3 linked regions of the Homo sapiens genome follow. The protein of the gene in region 3 binds, or shares a complex with, the protein of the main gene of each other region. Each region holds a gene or a part of one and is shown on either strand. Other genes may lie near its edges.

What was found.
Region 1: CEP290 (region 3) and MKS1 share a complex: the UniProt entries of both Homo sapiens proteins name them as parts of the tectonic-like complex.
Region 2: CEP290 (region 3) and TMEM67 share a complex: the UniProt entries of both Homo sapiens proteins name them as parts of the tectonic-like complex.

What each region holds. Positions count from the first base shown.
Region 1 is NC_000017.11:58,204,941-58,209,255, reverse strand, and holds the end of MKS1 (tectonic-like complex member MKS1), read left to right. Parts: intron 1-672; coding exon 673-743; exon of another isoform or gene 744-748; intron 749-1,081; coding exon 1,082-1,151; intron 1,152-1,254; coding exon 1,255-1,362; intron 1,363-1,526; coding exon of another isoform or gene 1,527-1,552; exon of another isoform or gene 1,553-1,695; intron 1,696-2,037; coding exon 2,038-2,171; intron 2,172-2,708; coding exon 2,709-2,791; intron 2,792-2,875; coding exon 2,876-2,973; intron 2,974-3,085; coding exon 3,086-3,177; coding exon of another isoform or gene 3,178-3,266; 3' UTR 3,267-3,815; downstream 3,816-4,315. UniProt on the Homo sapiens protein: Component of the tectonic-like complex, a complex localized at the transition zone of primary cilia and acting as a barrier that prevents diffusion of transmembrane proteins between the cilia and plasma membranes.
Region 2 is NC_000008.11:93,792,894-93,799,893, reverse strand, and holds part of TMEM67 (meckelin isoform 1 precursor), read right to left. Parts: intron 6,697-7,000; coding exon 6,598-6,696; intron 4,486-6,597; coding exon 4,387-4,485; intron 3,994-4,386; coding exon 3,907-3,993; intron 2,761-3,906; coding exon 2,661-2,760; intron 2,564-2,660; coding exon 2,424-2,563; intron 277-2,423; coding exon 136-276; intron 1-135. UniProt on the Homo sapiens protein: Required for ciliary structure and function. Part of the tectonic-like complex which is required for tissue-specific ciliogenesis and may regulate ciliary membrane composition.
Region 3 is NC_000012.12:88,131,947-88,139,088, forward strand, and holds part of CEP290 (centrosomal protein of 290 kDa), read right to left. Parts: intron 4,841-7,142; coding exon 4,697-4,840; intron 1-4,696. UniProt on the Homo sapiens protein: Involved in early and late steps in cilia formation. Its association with CCP110 is required for inhibition of primary cilia formation by CCP110.

The sequences.
Region 1 (4,315 bases), on a different chromosome or scaffold from region 3:
TGTCCGCCCCGTCTGGGAAGTGAGGAGCGCCTCTGCCCGGCCGCCCCATCTGGGAGGTGTACCCAACAGCTCCGAAGAGACAGCGACCATTGAGAATGGGCCATGATGACGATGGCGGTTTTGTCAAAAAGAAAAGGGGGAAATGTGGGGAAAAGAAAGAGAGATCAGATTGTTACTGTGTCTGTGTAGAAAGAAGTAGACATAGGAGACTCCATTTTGTTCTGTACTAAGAAAAATTCTTCTGCCTTGGGATGCTGTTAATCTATAACCTTACCCCCAACCCCGTGCTCTCTGAAACATGTGCTGTGTCAACTCAAGGTTAAATGGATTAAGGGCGGTGCAAGATGTGCTTTGTTAAACAGGTGCTTGAAGGCAGCATGCTCCTTAAGAGTCATCACCACTCCCTAATCTCAAGTACCCAGGGACACAAACACTGTGGAAGGCCGCAGGGACCTCTGCCTAGGAGAACCAGAGACCTTTGTTCACGTGTTTATCTGCTGACCTTCTCTCCACTATTATCCTATGACCCTGCCACATCCCCCTCTCCGAGAAACACCCAAGAATGATCAATAAATACAAAAAAAAAAAAGAAAAGAAAAAAGAAACTGTCTTTTTCTGAATGACTTGCTTTCCTCCCAGGCGAGCTTACTATATTTGGTCTTTGGCTTTCAGACTGGTCAAGCCCAGCATTCCAGCAGCTCTCAGGAGTAACACAGACCTGCACCACCAAGTCCCTGGCAATGGTATGGAGAATGAGAGCGGGTATCTGGAAGGGAATGAGATCTGCTCCTGGGATGGCATTTGAGGTTTTATCAGGCCAAGTGCTGTGCGCCCTGGGGAGGATTCCAGAGTTGGGTGACTTGTGTGTGGGTTCTACAGGGCCACCTGGTCCGGAGATCCTGTCTGTCTTTTTGAGCATGGCAGCAGCTTGTATTTGGGTGTCCTTTTGCATCTCAGACTCCTATTTCCCACCTGGGTGATAATTTTTCTTTTTCCCTTGTGAAGATAACCTTGTCATTGGCCACAAGGAGAACAGATTCCAAGGGAGGCCTTGCCCACCCTATGACACTCCTTTTTATAGGACAAGGTGGCTCACTTCTCCTACCCATTCACGTTTGAAGCCTTCTTCCTCCATGAGGATGAATCTTCTGGTGAGTAGCTCAGCAGTTGATCCTGGGCCTTGGTTCCCCTCAAGCAGTGCTGTCTCTTGGTGAAGGCCGCCTGTGACCTGGCCGCTTCTCTCCTTGCTCCCAGATGCACTCCCGGAGTGGCCTGTGCTCTACTGTGAGGTCCTCTCGCTGGACTTCTGGCAGAGGTACCGTGTGGAAGGCTATGGGGCTGTGGTGCTGCCTGCCACTCCAGGTAACCGCTCGTCTCTGCCCTTCTGTGGCCCACATGCCCTAGGCCCTAAGAACAAGACTAACACTCGAATGCTTCTGGTGAGGGGTGGAGATAATTGGGAATTGGAAATGTTTGGCTTGAAAGAGTTCCTGTTCCTCTGAGGACTTTCTGCCCCCCTCCATTAGCGACAATGACGTGGCCTTGGCACTGACTTCCTGACAGTCTCTCCATGTGCTTCATGCTCCTCTGATTGGACTCAGGGTGAGAAGCTGTATGGCAAAATTGGCTCATAGCATATGTGTATTGAATGAATCAGCATTCAGTTTGGAATAAAAGCATCTGTCTTTTACTGTGTGCCAGGCATTGTGCCATACTTCTCACTTAATTCTCCCAGTCACTCTGTGAGGTGCAGGTGGTATTATTTCCATTTTACTAGATGAGGAGAATGAGCTTCAGAGAGGTTAAGAAACCTGTCCTGGGTATGCAGGTAATAACTGGCAGAGCGGAAATTTGAATTTCTCCCTGATTGATTTCCATACAGGTGCTATGGGTAACCATGATAACCTGCACCAGAGGCCAGGTCATCACCAGACCAGGTGTTTTAGCTGAGTCTAGGCCTGTGTCATTGCTGGGGAGTCAGTGAGGGGCCACATGCCCTTTCTGGACCTGGCCCCAGTCTTCTCTTCCCTTGCGCAGGCTCACACACCCTGACAGTCTCCACGTGGAGACCTGTGGAGCTTGGCACGGTGGCTGAGCTGAGGAGGTTTTTCATTGGCGGTTCTCTGGAACTGGAGGACCTCTCCTATGTACGGATACCAGGATCCTTCAAGGTGACTTTTGTCTTTGGAGTGACTTCACGCTGAGAACTTATGGTCCTGTCCTTCTGTAGGAGGTGGGATCTGGGTCAAGACCCCTTAGTTGTGCATTGCTTCAGTATTAACCCCTTCCTTCCTGTGGCTTAAGCTGGAAGTCATGACCACATTTTGAATCAGGTTCCAATATCTACACTGCTATCGTAGGAGGTCTCTGGAAAATAGTATAATTAGAGATTTCCCCTGGTTCCCATCAGAATAACTGGCTCTTTCCCCCATCACTGAAGGCCTCAGTAATCAGATGTGGGGAGGATTCACAGTAAGCATATAAGACCGCCGCTTCTCAAATGAGGTTGGAATGTTCCCTGGTTTAGTTGGGGGAGCCCAATAGCCCAGTATTAGCCTTGAGGTAATAGAGTCTGGGTGATGGAATAAGGTTTCCCCAACAGAACTGCGCTTCCCAAGAATGGGAATAAGAATGGGGGTGAGGCCAGCATGGTGCGGGGGTGTCTAGAGAGAGCAGAAACCTGAGGCTGTCCCAATGGCATGCCACAGGGGGAACGCCTGAGCCGCTTTGGACTCCGCACAGAGACCACAGGCACTGTCACCTTCCGCTTGCACTGTCTGCAGCAGTCCAGGTGAGTGACTTGGCCCTCTGCCTCAGGGCACCTTAGCCCTGAGGGGTGGAGACAGCCGTAACCATGTGGCTGGCCTCCCTGCAGGGCCTTCATGGAATCGAGCTCCCTTCAGAAAAGGATGCGGAGTGTGTTGGACCGTCTGGAAGGGTTCAGCCAGCAGAGTTCCATTCACAATGTGCTAGGTATGTCCCCTCCCCCAGCTGGCCACCCCAGGTCAGCATGGGCCTGTTTCTCTCTGCAGTGCAGAGAGAAATACCATATGGCAGCCAAATAGCATATCTCCTTTCCTTACAGAGGCCTTCCGTCGAGCCCGGCGCCGCATGCAGGAGGCCCGGGAAAGCCTCCCGCAGGACCTAGTGAGCCCCTCTGGAACCCTGGTCTCCTAGCTCACAGCAGCCCTGGCCCACAGTGCAAGAGGACAAGATGGGGGATATCTGAGGCCAGTGCTCTCCTGCCTCTTCGTCTTTCTGATTAGAGACCACGTTGGTCTGCTGAGAACCAGAAAAGCTGGGAAATTCCCGGCTGGCCCCTCTGCCTAGCCTTCTGCAGGGTCTTCTCCCTACCCTGTGGAAATAAAGCCAGAGACCCTGTGGCCCCCCCTTTATATTTGCAGCCACTGTCAATGGGCATCACAGCAAGGCAGGCTTTTTGATCTGAAGCTGTTTGGGGTGACCCCATAGTGAGTCTGGCCTTGACTCACTTTTCTGGCTTGTCTCACAGTAGCAGGGGATCTGCTGTTCTCCACCCTTTAAAAATGGAGCCTTTCATCTTCCAAGACCAAAGAAGGAAGGAAGGTGGACGGTGAGAGGGTCTTAAATCCCCAGCCTGTGAGTCTCAGCCTCTTTCCAGGGAAGCCTCATTCTACTGCTTGGGGCTTGCTGAGGTTGAGATATGAGTTATTTCTGAGTAAGTGAAGGCTGAAGGCAGTGCTGAGTCCTTTCTGCTAGCTGGGTGGTATCTTTTACTGTGTTTTTTTGTTTGTTTGTTTTTTTGTTTTTTGTTACATAAACCCCTTTTATTTTGACTGATGTTCTGTTGGCTGTTTGTCTGCTCAGGTTGCTGGTATGGCTAGGGTGTTCTTAATGTCGGGGCCCCTACCATGTCTGCCCTTCCCCTTTTCTGCCTTTCCCTACTCCACAGTGTTTCTTTGGGCTCTCCTAATTCAGCCCCCAGGAGAGGCTTAGATGGTTGTGCCAGCTTGCGTGTTAACAGCACTTCTCTTAAACATCTGGAGCAAAGCATGGAACTGAGGCCACGTCTTCCCTAGCCCAACACAGAAACAGCAGCCCCTGCCCTTAGCAGTGCTTTATTGGTAGAAGCAGAGCATGCTGCCTGGCCTCAGGCTCAGAGGAGTATTGTGGGGTGTCTGGAGGCTAGGACCGAGTGGTCTCTTAGTCATGGTGAGGGAGGGGAGGGAGGGCTGGGAAACAGTAGAAAGTGCTGTAAACCCTCCAGCTGACTTTTCTTGCCTGGGGTGCAAGACCACATGGCTTGGCTCCCAAGCCTTTGCACGTGGCGCTGATT
Region 2 (7,000 bases), on a different chromosome or scaffold from region 3:
TAGCTATTGTTCTTGTCACCTTCTTTCTGCTACAGAAAGAAGGATGTGGTCAATATTTGATGATAATCAGTAATTAGGCAGAGTTATAAAGAAGCAATGTTACTTAGAAGTAATATTACCTGTATAATTCCTTACCTGTATAATTCCAATGGCTAGCCAAAGAGCAGCAGACACTGCATATCTCAAAATGCAGCTATAAGGAGCTATGTAGCTAGGTGGGTTTCTAGAAAGACTAGAAGATGAGTCCATTAATGCTAAGTTCTTGAATCCCACAACCTGGAGTAAAAAGGAAAAGTAGTAATTTAAACGGACATGGATAAAGAAAACTACTCTAGACTGAAAACAGAAAACCTCTCCCTACTCACCTTGAAAAACTAAAATATCTAAGTTTGTATAAACAGTAGAAAATCTAGATAAAAATAATTATTATATAGTATTTTAACTACAAAGTATTTATTACACAATATTTAGTTAGCTCATTTGGCATTCTTCTCAATATGACTAAGGGCCAAATATAACCTTATTGTCATACACACTGACAAGACTAAAAATTTAATTAAAAGGATAAAACTTTCATCAGTAAACTACCAATGAGTGAAACCAACAAGTAGTATTTCATGAGTATTTGACATGTGCCAGGCACTGTACTAAACATTTTTATACTTTAAAACAGTATATTACAAAATGTCTTCTAAAGGACATAAGTTCTTGAAAAAAGAATCTATGTTTAAATACTTTTGGTCCATCCATTACACTCACCTCCATGCCTCCCACCCTTGTAGAATAAAGGCTCTGAGAAGTTTTACAGTAAAAGGTGCTACATGATTATACTGAATCCAATATTTTCCAAACTTACTTGACCATAAAACTTTTTCACATAACACCTTTTAAAGCTGAGGAAACTCTTAAACACACACACACACACACACACACACACACACACACACACACTACTTTAGTACAAAAAGAAAAGATGTGAGGTAACAGATAAACTAGCTTGATTTAGCCATTCCACAATGAATACATATATCAAAACACTGTATTGTAAACTATAAACATATGTAATTTTTATCTGTCCATTTAAGAAAAACCAAAATACCACTTCAAGTGAACTTTGGAAGTCTTGTTCATATTATTTTAAAGCCCTAGGGATACAAACATTCTTCTACTAGTTTTATAAAAGGAAAGGAAGGGAAAGGGGAAAGAGAATGGAAAGAAAGAAGAAAAAAGAGGGAAGGCAGACAGACAGACCTAAGAGTTAATGATTTATATTCAATCTTAATTAAGCAGATAATTCCTGAGAAAACCTATTCCCATATAAACTGTTTCCATGTTCAGTCTTATACTCAGTACTGAATACTTCCTTTAATAATTCCAACCAAATCCATGAAATAACTGCATATGTATCACAAACATGTTGTGTTTTGTTCAGTGTAGCCCCAGCTCTTAGCACAGAACATAGTCTACAGTAAGTGTTCAATACAAATTTGTTGAAAAATATCAAACTTATAATAGTGATTCTAATGCAGGGGAGAATATGGATCGGGGGTAGGGAGCTTTTTCAAAATATAGATACCTGGAGTTACCTCAAAGCTACTAAATCAACACATAGTCTCTAAGGGTGAGCCTGAGCATAGGTATTTTACAAAAGATCCCCAAGGGATTCTGATACAAACCAGTGGTTTTAAAGCTACTCCTTACACCTAGAGCAGTCAAACACACAGAGACAGAAAGTATTATAGAATGGTGGTTGCCTGGGGTTAGGTGTAGCAGGGAATGGGTACAGAGTTGTTTAAGGGGTATAGAGTTTCAGTTTTGCAAGATGAAGAGTTCTAAGATGAATGGTGATGATGATTTTGCGTGGCAATGTGAATGTACGTAACACTACTTTTTGTTTGTTTGTTTTTTTCTGAGATGGAGTTTTGCTCTTTCTGCCCAGGCTGGAGTTCAATGGTGCAATCTCGGCTCACTGTAACCTCCGCCTCCCGGGTTCAAGCAATTCTCCTGCCTCAGCCTCCCGAGCAGCTGGGATTATAGGCATGTGCCGCCATGCCCAGCTAATTTTGTATTTTTTGGTAGAGACGGGGTTTCTCCATGTTGGCCAGGCTGGTCTTGAACTTCCAACCTCAGGTGATCCGCCTGCCTCAGCCTCCCAAAGTGTTGGGATTACAGGCATGAGCCACTGTGCCTGGCCAACTTAACACTATTAAACTCTACACTTAAAAATGCTTAAGATGGTAAACTTAAAAAAAGAATTGTGGTAAAATACGTAACATAAAGGTACTCCTTTTTAATGGCTTCACAACAATATTTCAACCTTTAGAGAAATCTTCCACTGTCATGAAAACTTAGTTGGAATTATATTAGTTTAATATTTATAAGGTACATGTAAGTCGCATATAATCACATCAAACAGTTTATACCTCCAAAAAGAAGAGGACAGTAAGTACTTGAAAGAGTGAATTAATTTTTCTCACAGTCTGAATTTCATTCCATTCATTTGCTACAAAATATGTTCTCCATATGCTTACAGGAACAGTGGCACTTCGTACACCACCCTCACCTGGTCAGGAAAATAAAATGAGTAAAAGAGTTTTACCTCCTTTGCTCTGCAAGGGTAGCAAAAGAATTTTGGTACAAATATTTTTTATTTCAGTTACCTTCAACAGCTTTAAGAACCTTTCCTTTAGGTCGCTCCCAATCAATAAAGAATACATCTATTGTAATCTGGGATATGAGCTTATGCAAAAATTGTAGTGCCTGAGAATGACATATAATAAAACACCTGAAAAAGTACCAGCGTTAAGTCTGCTTATAAAACCAATATTGACTCTTTAAGAAACATACTGTTATCACAAGAACATATAATTTTATGAGTGAATTCACATGAAGTTATAATACCACTAAGGAATCATTAGAAGCTCATCAGATAACCTGGAATCATCAAATTCACAGAATTTTCATATACATCTTAATTTACCTTCCCTTTTTCTTTCTTTCTTTAAAATAGGAATATGAAAAGAGGAGACATTTTTCCTCCTCCTCACATAGGGACTTATATAATTGACTCTTTCCCAAAGATTCTAGAAGCACACTTTGTTTTGTAGATCAGCTGACTTCTTTATAAGTAAAGATATTTTCAACTATAGTTTGTTTTTCCTAATTAAAGTTTTCGAATGCTCTTACTGTCTTTTTTTTCTATTTCTGCTATTCAGATTTCTGATTTTTAAAGAATGTGCTGTTGAAACACATCTTTCTTATTTATACAAGCAATATGTTTAAACTGAGGCATTCTTTCTAGTTGCTGCATTATTCATCAAATAAAGGATAAAAATCTAAGTATGAGATACTTCACCTCAAGAAGCTCCCAGTCAGTGGAAAAAGCAGACACTTAACACTCACAGTAAAATAGGATAAGGACTACCAACAGGCATATAAAGAGATTCACCTACATTGATGGAGAACACTGAGTTGGGGATTGGGGGGCCATAGGAAGAAAGGAGCAAAGGAATCTGGAGACAGACAAAACAACTTTTAAGATCTCAACACTTTATCCAGAGTGGTACCTTTTACCCTTGATTAATGGAGACAAAATTCATGCCTGAAGACATTTTGTCCCATTGTGAATGTATCATCAGACTTTAAAGAAAGTTATATACTGAAATATCATTTTATCAAATAAGCCATACAAATTCATGGCTTCTTTGAAAAAAATATTTAAGGCAGAGTTTCAGACTGAGCATCTACTATAAATAAAAGTAAATTTACCACATAAAATAATTAATGCTTTCTTTCAAAACCAAAGTGAATTTCACGCCAAAGATTTTTGAAAGCATTTTAATTTTAAAGACTTGTTAGTTCATTAGCAGGCCTTTTAAATTTGGTAACCTGTCCTTTAAAACTTACCTTCAGAGCAAAGGCACATCCAACATAAGTGACAAAACGTTCTTCCTGAATTGGCATTGGCAGCAAAACAGACACAGACTTCTGTGCCTATAATAAAAATTACTTGATTAAATATTATCACACACAGTTTTTTTTGTTTGTTTGTTTGTTTTTTGTTTTCGTTTTTGTTTTTTTTTGGGAAAGGAGGGTCTCAGTATGCTGCCCGGGCAGGACTTGATTCTGGACTCACAGGATCCTCCCACCTAAGTCTTCCAATTGAACAAGGTTTTTACTAAGCACAATTTATAAACCAAAGAAAGCATAAAAGAGGAAGATAGTGATGTAATCGATAAGCTCAGCACACTCAAGGAATGGGGAGTTGGGAACTTTTCTTAATACTGTTGATCAAAAATTCTCTCAAATAAAAATAGTTCCTTTATAAAGAAAGCTTTTCAACTATTCAGATATTGGCAGTTGGGGAAAATTCAGAAACTCACTCACTTTGAAGAAAATAAGCCAGTAAAGACCTGTTCCCACTGTGATGATAAAGAAAACATTGGCCAGATCACCAGCATAGTACACCAAGAATTTCACAACTGTCTGCAATTTAAAAAAAAGAATTACAGCTGTTTAAGACTCCATGTATATACCACTTTTAGTAACACTACCACTTTTATACATCATCCACTCCATTTCTTAAGCCTGAAGCCTTGTTTCACATATCCCCATATGATCCAGCTATAAAGACCACCTGCTTCCTCCTCCTTGCTACCTTTTGGCTCCTTACCTTTCTGGCCGTTCCTGGTAGCCTCTTCTTTCAACTCTTCTCATCTTTCACTATCTAAGAAAATTGAACTGCTTCCTAATTTTCTCTTAGTTGGGAATCCTCCCCTCTAATCTCTCCTCCACACTACCACCAGAGTTAGTTTTCTAAGATGTAAATTGGATTGTGTCACTCCCCTTGTTAAAAATGAACAACTCCTCATTGCAATATAAATTCCTGATCCACAAGGTCTTTCACAATATGGGCCAAAATTAACTTTTTAGCCTCATCTGCCAGTTCCAGCCATGTAGTCAATGACTAACCACTCCATACGTTCATCTCAAATACTTTCTGGAATAAAATGGGCATTGTTTTACCAAATATTCTTCTCTTCCCCTCTCTGGTAAGTTCTCATGATTTCTGAGAGCACAGACTATGTCTGTCTTTGCTCACTAACACATTCTCCAGCTCCTGGTAGAGTGCCAGACACTTAGACAATAGAGCCTCAGTGACTATTATAGAATGAACAGATAATCCCACTTAAAGTTCATTTCTCTGGGAAGCCTTTCTGGACTATCCCAAGTAGTAAATCAAGTACCCCTGCTGATTCCTTAGCCCACTGGCTTTGGAATCAGAAAGATACTTTGGTTAAAGCTACCATGTAACCTTTCTCATGTTCTTCATCAACAAAACGGAAATACCTATTACTGAGTTGCAAAAATCAAGTGAGTAGAAAATTTAACCTTTACCTCAATTTCATCACGTGTAAAACGCAAATAATAATAATAACCTAACTTCAAAGAGCTACTGTGCGGATTCAGAAAATTACATACATAAAGCTTTAAAAAGTGCCTGGTACATGGTAAATATTTTTTAAATGTTTAATAAAAATAAAAGGTTAACCATGAAGTGAAAGTATAAAGTTAATAGAATAAAATGTGGACTATCTTTGTGATCTTGATATAGGGACGGTTTTCCTAAACAAGATCCCAAAAGCACGTATCATAACATGAAAAAAAATATTCAGATATGATGATATCAAAACCAAAAGTTTCTGGCCAGGCGTGGTGGCTCATGCCTGTAATCCCAGCACTTTGGGAGGCTGAGGTGGGCGGATCATGAGGCCAGGAGTTCAAGACCAGCCTGAACAACATGGTGAAACCCCGTCTCTACTAAAAATACAAAAATTAGCCAGGCATGGTGGTGTGCGCCTGTAATTCCAGCTACTCAGGAGGCTGAGGCAGGAGAATTGCTTGAACCCGGGAGGCAGAGGTTGCAAGTGAACCAAGATTGTGCCTCTGCACTCCAGCCTCAGCGACAGAGTGAGACTCCGTCTCAAAAAAACAACAACAAAAAAAAACAAAAATGAAAACAAAAACAAACCTGAAAGTTTCTGTTAAACAAAGGACTACATGGATAAAAATAACGGATGGGTCACATATTTATTTGGTCATATATTTCAACATCAGAAACCAAAAAGGGGTTACTATTTAGAAAATACAAAAAAAAATTCTTCAAATAAACAATAAAAACTGGAAACATAATAGAGAAATGGGCAAGGGATATAAACAGGCAGTTCACAGAAGGAGAAACCCAAACGATTAAAATGTATATGAAGAGTACAGAGAAATGAAAATGAAATCAACAATGACATACTACTATATGCCATGAGGTTGGCAAAAAATGAAAAGGTTGGAAAAATATCAAGTGTTGCCAAGTATGTGCAGAAATAAGAAGAGCATTGCTGGTGGGAATATAGACTGGCATACAGTATGGTGGGAAGAAAATGAGGTACACATATACCATATGACCCAGCAATACTTACCCTAATTACATATCCCAGAAAAATTCAATGCAACTTTTTTACTTATTCTCTAGCTGTGTCTTATGAGAAGGATCCAGAATGGTCAAAAGATAAAAATATTCTTAAAAAACTCCTGAGATTATACCTGTAAATCAATCATGGGACTCCCAATGCGCCTCTTCCATCCTGCTGTCTTCAAAAGAGATGCTAAAACAGCTAGCCCACCCAATACACCCAAAGCAATCTAAAAAACAAAAGAACAATTGAGAATTTATGTAATTTCTGTCATCGGTGTTCAAAAACACTGTGAACAAGTAAGGAAGTGCTCAAAAAAATGGTGGGGTGGGAAATGTTGAAAGGACACAGGAGTCAGCCGGGCACAGTGGCTCACACCTGTAATCCCAGCACTTTGGGAGGCCGAGGCAGGCGGATCATGAGGTCAGGAGATCAAGACCATCCTGGCTAACACGGTGAAACCCGTCTCTACTAAAAATACAAAAAATTAGCTGGGCATGGTGGTGGGTGCCTGTAGTCCCAGCTACTGGGGA
Region 3 (7,142 bases):
TCTAAAATCACACCGGCCTAGGTTTATGTCCCTCATCAACCAATTTCTAGTAAAGCATGAATGAGTTACTTAACATCTCTTTAACTCAGTTTTCTCATACATGCTGACATAAGAGTTAAACAAGAAGCATACAGAGTTCTTAGAAAAATGATCAGTGAATAGAATAGCAAAAAGTAATACAGCATTCTCTTATCTACATATAAGTGACTTTATCTGTGATTCTTGTTTCTCTGAACAGGCAAACATTATTATAAACATTATGATGCCTTTTTTCACCTATTCTCCAAACCTCATTCCTCTTATGACCTTTCATTTTTCTGGTTCTCCTCTTTATTAAAGGAGACGATAGAATCACAATGGTATACAACGATATTTAAAAAGTCTATAATAAAGAACCAAATGTAGTATGTGATCCTTGACAGAACTTTGGATATTGGAGGTGGGGAGACTGAAGGATATTATTGGGCCATTAGAAGAAATCTCATTATGGACTAGATAATGGTGTTGAATCAATATTAAAATTCCTGAGCATGACAATTATATTGTGTTCATTGTAGGAGAACATCTTTCTTTTTCAAACAGACAAGCTGAAATATTTAAGTGCAAAGTATCATATCTGCAATTAGCTCTTAAATGACTCAGCAAAAAATGTGATTGAACAAACAAGAGACAGAGAAATACATGTGTGTGTAAAAATACTGACAAAAAGATAAAGCAAAGTTGGCACAACATTAAGAACTGGTGAATCTATATGAAGGGTATGTGGGTGGTTATTGTTTTTCTTTTTCCCATCAACTTTTAAGTTCTGGGGTACATGTGTAAGATGTGCAGGTTTGTTACTTAGGTAAATGTGTACAATGGTGGCTTGCTGCACAGATCAACCCATAACCTAGATATTAAGCCCAGCATCCATTAGCTATTCTTCCTGATGTTCTCCCACCCCGACCCCTTGACGGGTCCCAGTGTGTGTTGTTCCCCACCATGTGTCCATGTGTTCTCATTGTTCAGCTCCCACTTATAAGTGAGAACATGCAGTGTTTGGTTTTCTGTTCCTGTGTGAGTTTGCTGAGGATAATGGCTTCCACCTCCATCCCATGTCCCTGCAAAGGACATGATCTTGTTCCGGTTTTTTTTTTTTTTTTTTTTTGAGACAAACTCTAGTTTTGTTGCTAAGGCTAGAGTCCAGTGGTGCGATCTCAGCTCACTGCAACCTCTGCCTTCTGGGTTCAAGTCATTCTCCTGCCTCAGCCTCCCAAGTAGCTGGGACTGCAGGCATACAGTACCATGACCAGTTAATTTTTGTTTGTTTTGTTTTGTTTTTGTAGAGATGGGGTTTCACCATACTGGCCAGGCTGGTCTTGAACTCCTGACCTCAAGTGATCTGCCTGCCTCGGCCTCCCAAAGTGCTGGGACTGTAGGCATGAGTCACCACGCTTGACCTCTCATTCTCTTTTGATGGCTGCATAGTATTCTATGATGTATATGTTCCACATTTTCATTATCCAGTCTATCATTGATGAGCATTTGGGTTGATTCCATGTCTTTGCTATTGTGAATAGTGCTGCAATGAACATATGTGTGCAAGTATCTTTATAAGAAAATGATTTATATTCTTTTGGGTATATACCCAGTAATGGGATTGCTGGGTCAAGTGGTATTTCTGCTTCTAGATCTTCGAGGAATTGCCACACTGTCTCCCACAATGGTTGAACTAATTTACATTAACACCAACAGTGTGTTTCTTACAATCTTTATGAAGATATGACATTTTTCAAAATAAAAATTTAAAGAAAGTTTATAATAAAATGCAAACTACAATACAAATTTTAGAAGTTTGCCTATCATTATTATTATCAATTGAAAGTTAATAATCCCACTGTGTTCTGAATTGGGAAATTTTTACAAGAAGAGAAGCCAAGAACTTAATGCTAAAGCATTTAATGCTATTAATGTTTTTTTCCCTTGTCTTCTCAAACATCACACTCTGTTTCTCCTTTCTTGAGCTTTTCCTTGAAGCACTCTTCCTATTTCATTGCTTTATTAGACATTTCTCAGAGACGTGCCTTACAATCACTTCTCTGGCTTCAATAATGTCTACATTGATGATTCATAAATCCTCATCATCTGTACAGGGTCTCTTGTGAATTCCATATCCACAGATACCCTTTTTGAATATGCCCAGAAGAACCTCAAACTCAACATCTACAAAACTGAAATAATCTCAAGCTTTCCAAATTCCTCTTGTGTTCCTCCTTAATGAATGGCACTATCTACCTATTTAGTGGCCCAACCCACAAAATTAGGCAGACTCTCCATCCTCCCTCTCCTCCAACAACCAATTACATTCACCACATCCAATTACATCTACTTCTCTCACACTTGTCTTTCTCAGGCAAATGCCATCATTAGCACTTCCCTGAATTAACACAAATGTTTCCTTACTAGTCTTGGCCCTTTTCAATCCACTCTCTACAAAGTACAGTAAACTTTTAAAGTATAGATCTGATCATGATATCCTGTGCTCAAAACTCTTCACTGGCTCCTTTCAGGAAAAGAACCAAATTCATTAGGAACTGGCCCTTGCTTATCTCTCCAGAGGATCATAAAAAATAAAACTGGGAAGGCAAGATAGCACAGACTCTTGAGTAAGACTGTTTTCAAATCCTACCTTTACCATTTATAAGCTGTGCAACCATGGGCAATTACTCTTTCTGTGTCTCCATTTCTTCATCTGTATCATGGCAGAAATGACAACTATCTCATATGACAAGTATCAAATAAGCAATAATGAATTAATGCATATGAAGTGCCTGGCACATAGTAAGGACTCTATGAAAGCTATTTTCACTTATATTTCAGTCAAAATGAATAACTGTAGTTTCCTAAATACTCCATAACATCTCTTACCTCTAGGTCTTAGCAAATGCTATATCTTCTACCCAGAATGTTCTTTTATTAACCACCATATATATCCTCATTCCTCTTACCAGTCTAACTATACTTCAGGTCTCAGTTTACAGATCACATCCTGCACCTCAAGGCTGATTACGGTATCTCTCTCCAGAGTATGCCAGAATATGACCTTATGTATCTCCCTAAGTATCATATTATCACTATGTTATGCTTATTATTGACTATGAATATTCTTGAGAACCAGAACATAGTTGCCCACTATATCACTAGTAACTAGCAGCCTCTGGTATGCTGTAAAGACTCAATAAAACTGAATGACTGGTTAACGGCAAAGAAGTAATTGCCAAAGCAACCCATACCCATATTTCATCTCAAGGAATTGAGCAGCCAAAAAGGAACACAGGCCATATATTCAAGTTTTCTCTGTGTGTGACTATGAAAAAAGACAATAGTCTAAGATATAAATGGACAAGGTAGTTCTGATTAGCTAAGGGTGTGTGGTATGAATGATAAGTCAACTGATACAGGTCTATATAGAAGAACAAAAGTCCAGAAAACCACAGACATCCCCCTAAGCAATTCTACCAGTGTATATTATAAGTTAGATCCTTGATGACTATTAAAAAATCCACATGTCTGCTATGTTTTGCAGTTAGCTAAACAGATAATGCTCTAAGAGCTTCTTCCTAACATTTAAGTGGCATCGATCCATACTTTCTCTACCACATTGTTTTCATAGCTAACTTCTATATGATTCTTCAACATTTTAGAGTAAAATACATACATGAAGAATGGGGATACTTTTCCTTACAAATCAATTTATGATACATTCTCTTAAATAGCATATCATTGTTTTCTTAAAATGTATGACCCTCAATTTCTGAGAGAACAATGGACAAAATAAAATAAATGGAATATAACACAACAATGACCTAAAGGACACAAAGGTGGAAAACGTTTCTGAGTATAAGGGACAGGACAGTTACCACATGTAGGCACCAAATTTTACTAAGTTTACTAACAGTTCAGGTGAAATAAAAAACAAATAAATGTTAAGTAAATAAATAAATAATACATTAAATAGGAAGCTGAGGTAAAATAGGAAATTTTCTTCCAGGAAATACAAGTTGATCTGCAAAAAACTTTTTTCCTAAAACTAAATTCAAGTGAACACTGCAAGAATTATTAGTTTATAACAAGGAATAACGAGGTAATAAAAACTATGCATTAAAAATGTTATTTTAAATATGTGATTTATAAACTGCTGACATGAACACAACTTTTCAAAAACTATACATATATATATATATCTCACATAAAATAAGGTACAACCAAAAACAAGATATTTAATTAACCATTATTGAATATATCGAAAGATTCATTTGCGAATCTACTAATCATATAAATACATTGAAATGAACAAATATAACTTTTACCCAAAATAAACTATGGCACTAGAAAGATCACTTCTTTATGAAAATCTATTAGTTACTTGATACCAATCTTCCAGACAAAAGCATTAATTTTAGGTAACAAGTTTGATGTCCTGAGAAAAATGTACTTCCAAATATAAAGAATTAATCTTCAAGTCATATTCACTAGAAGTACCATTATATTTTAAAATTGGTGATGACAAAATGAACAGTGATATAAAACCTTAGAGATAAGTGTACATCATTTTTCAAATATAACATACAATATAAAAATTGATATTGTTACCAATAATAATAAAAAGCCAGGTAACTTGAACAGTGAAGATTCATGGAAAAAAAAAGTGCTTTACTTGCTCATTAACTTTCTTCTCTTTCTCCAACTCCTTTTCCATGTCCTCCAATTCTCTATCTTTTTGTTCTAATTGTTTTTCAAGTTGGCAAATTTCATTACGTAAAAACCGAGTATCTCGTCCACCTGCAGACTGCTGAGCCATCTTAAAGTAATAAACCCAAAGTATAAATTAATCCCATTATATTTTGAGGTTCAAATGAGTCAACAACAAGCAAATAATTATGCTGAATTTAAATTTGCATTATACTTCAGTGCAGATATTTAAAATCATATTAGCTTAAGAACTTTTTTTTTTTTAATTTAACTTACTTAAGGTTAGTTCACAGCTAATAACTCCTTAAATTTTTCCTGAGCCACCCAGAGATGCAAAGAATTGACTGTTAATCATTCTGTTGTAACCACTGGGCCACAGGTAACCAGACTAAACTGCAAAGGTTCCTGAGCCTCAGGGATCTGGAACCTGAGTACAAACCATCAGAATCTCCACCCCAGTCAGTGAAGCTGAGTGCCTTAACCTGCCCTTTCTCTCATACCATGCACTGTTTAGACCAGTGCTGTCCCATAGGACTTTCTAGCATAATGGACATGCTGTCAGTGCTGTCCAGTTCAATAGCCACTCGCTACATGTAGCTATGTTCGGGCATTTGAAGTGTGGCTAGTGCAACTGAAGAACTAAATTTTTCATTTTAATTTTAACCAATGTAAATATAAATAGCTACAAGTGGTTAGTGCTAGTGCTACCATATTAAACAGCTCAGGTTTTGGTTATCTTAAGATTTGTAGCCGATTAAATCCATTTTACCTCACAGTCTTGTTAATTCAGGTCATGGCCAAGAACATCAAATCATTTGGTCATCTAATGTGTCTCACATTCATTTCTTCACCTTATAGTTCTGTTATTCCTCTACCTTAACCAAATTGTTCTTACTCTTTCTCTCCTCCAAAAAGCATTCCATTGTGCTCTCTAAAATTCTCTTCCAAGATAAATTAATATTTCACATCCTCAGATTCTTTACTGAATCCTCCTTTCCATCTCCTTGGCTTAGCTGCAATTTGGATCCTTTAGTATACTAATGCCCTTGGAACTCTTTCAATTGGAAGGTGCTCATTCTTTCAGATTCCAAATACATGAGGGTCAGAAGAAGGTGTTGGTGCTTCTAGGTTTACCCCACCCTGCAACTTCAGGTGATCATTCCTATCATTCCTCCATCATCCTATAGAAACTTCAGCTGCTTTCTCACAAAATATCCTGCTCTCCATCTTTACCTACTCATGGTAGAAACAAGCCACCAACCTTCCAGTAACTCCGCAAAATGCACTGGGAATTTAAGCATGTGGCCCACAGATGTCTATCAAATGCCCACTAAGCAATCTCCACATAACTTTTGTTCTAGTCTATTTTTTTCTTGAATTCACTATAGTCTCTCACTCCCACACCCACATCAGATCCTTGTCCAACCAGAACATTCTTTCAATTATTCCCACTATGCCTGTCCTTCGACCTCACAGGACACTCTAACCCCTCATCTTCTCCCTCCATATCCCTACCCTTCTGCCCACCCAACCCCAATCTTGATTTTATCTATTCAGTTAAGACTTCATAATCATCACTTCAACCACTTTCCTACCAATATCTTCAACTGTGCTACCCTTCTATTCTACAGCAGCTACCTAGCTAAACACTAACACAGAACTGATCCAACTCCATAATTCATTTAGTATTTATTGAAAGTGCTTGGCATTTTCCCAGGAGCTGGATATACAATCAAAAACAATAGGTCATCCAAGTTCAGAGAGTTAACGAGTAGAAGAATCAGGACTAGAACTCAAATCTGTCTGACTCCAGATCCCCAACTCTCCAGTCCTGTCTCCAATATATTTCAAATTTTACCTAATTTCCTTAAAATGTGACCACACCATTTCCCACTCTTTTTAACAGAAGATGTCATCACCAACCCCTCAACTTCCAAGCATTATGCCTACAAACATAAAAGCCTCTATACACATCCACTCTTCCCACGCTCATCCACTCATCCTCCTCTCCTAACACAAAGGAAAAGGGTATTCCTCCTTTCAAAGGCTGATCCATTTGTATCACATTCCTACCTTCTCAGGAATCTCAATGTATTTTGTTCTTCAACAATACATTCATATTTTAGCCTTCAGCTTTGTCAAAAATTACTTCTATAACACCCTTTCGTCACTATTCCTCAAATCCCCACCCACCCTCCACCTCAGTTACTAGTAATCTTTCTGTATATTTCCCAAGACTATAAGCTCCATCCAGCAGTTAACTTCTTATTTTGTTCACAACCATATGCTCAGTCCTTAGTACTATATAAGGCACATAATAGGCATGTAGAACATATACAGAATAAACAAATAACCATGATTACAATCATCCTTATAATTTTTCCAGCCAACAATAATTTTAAAATTTGAAA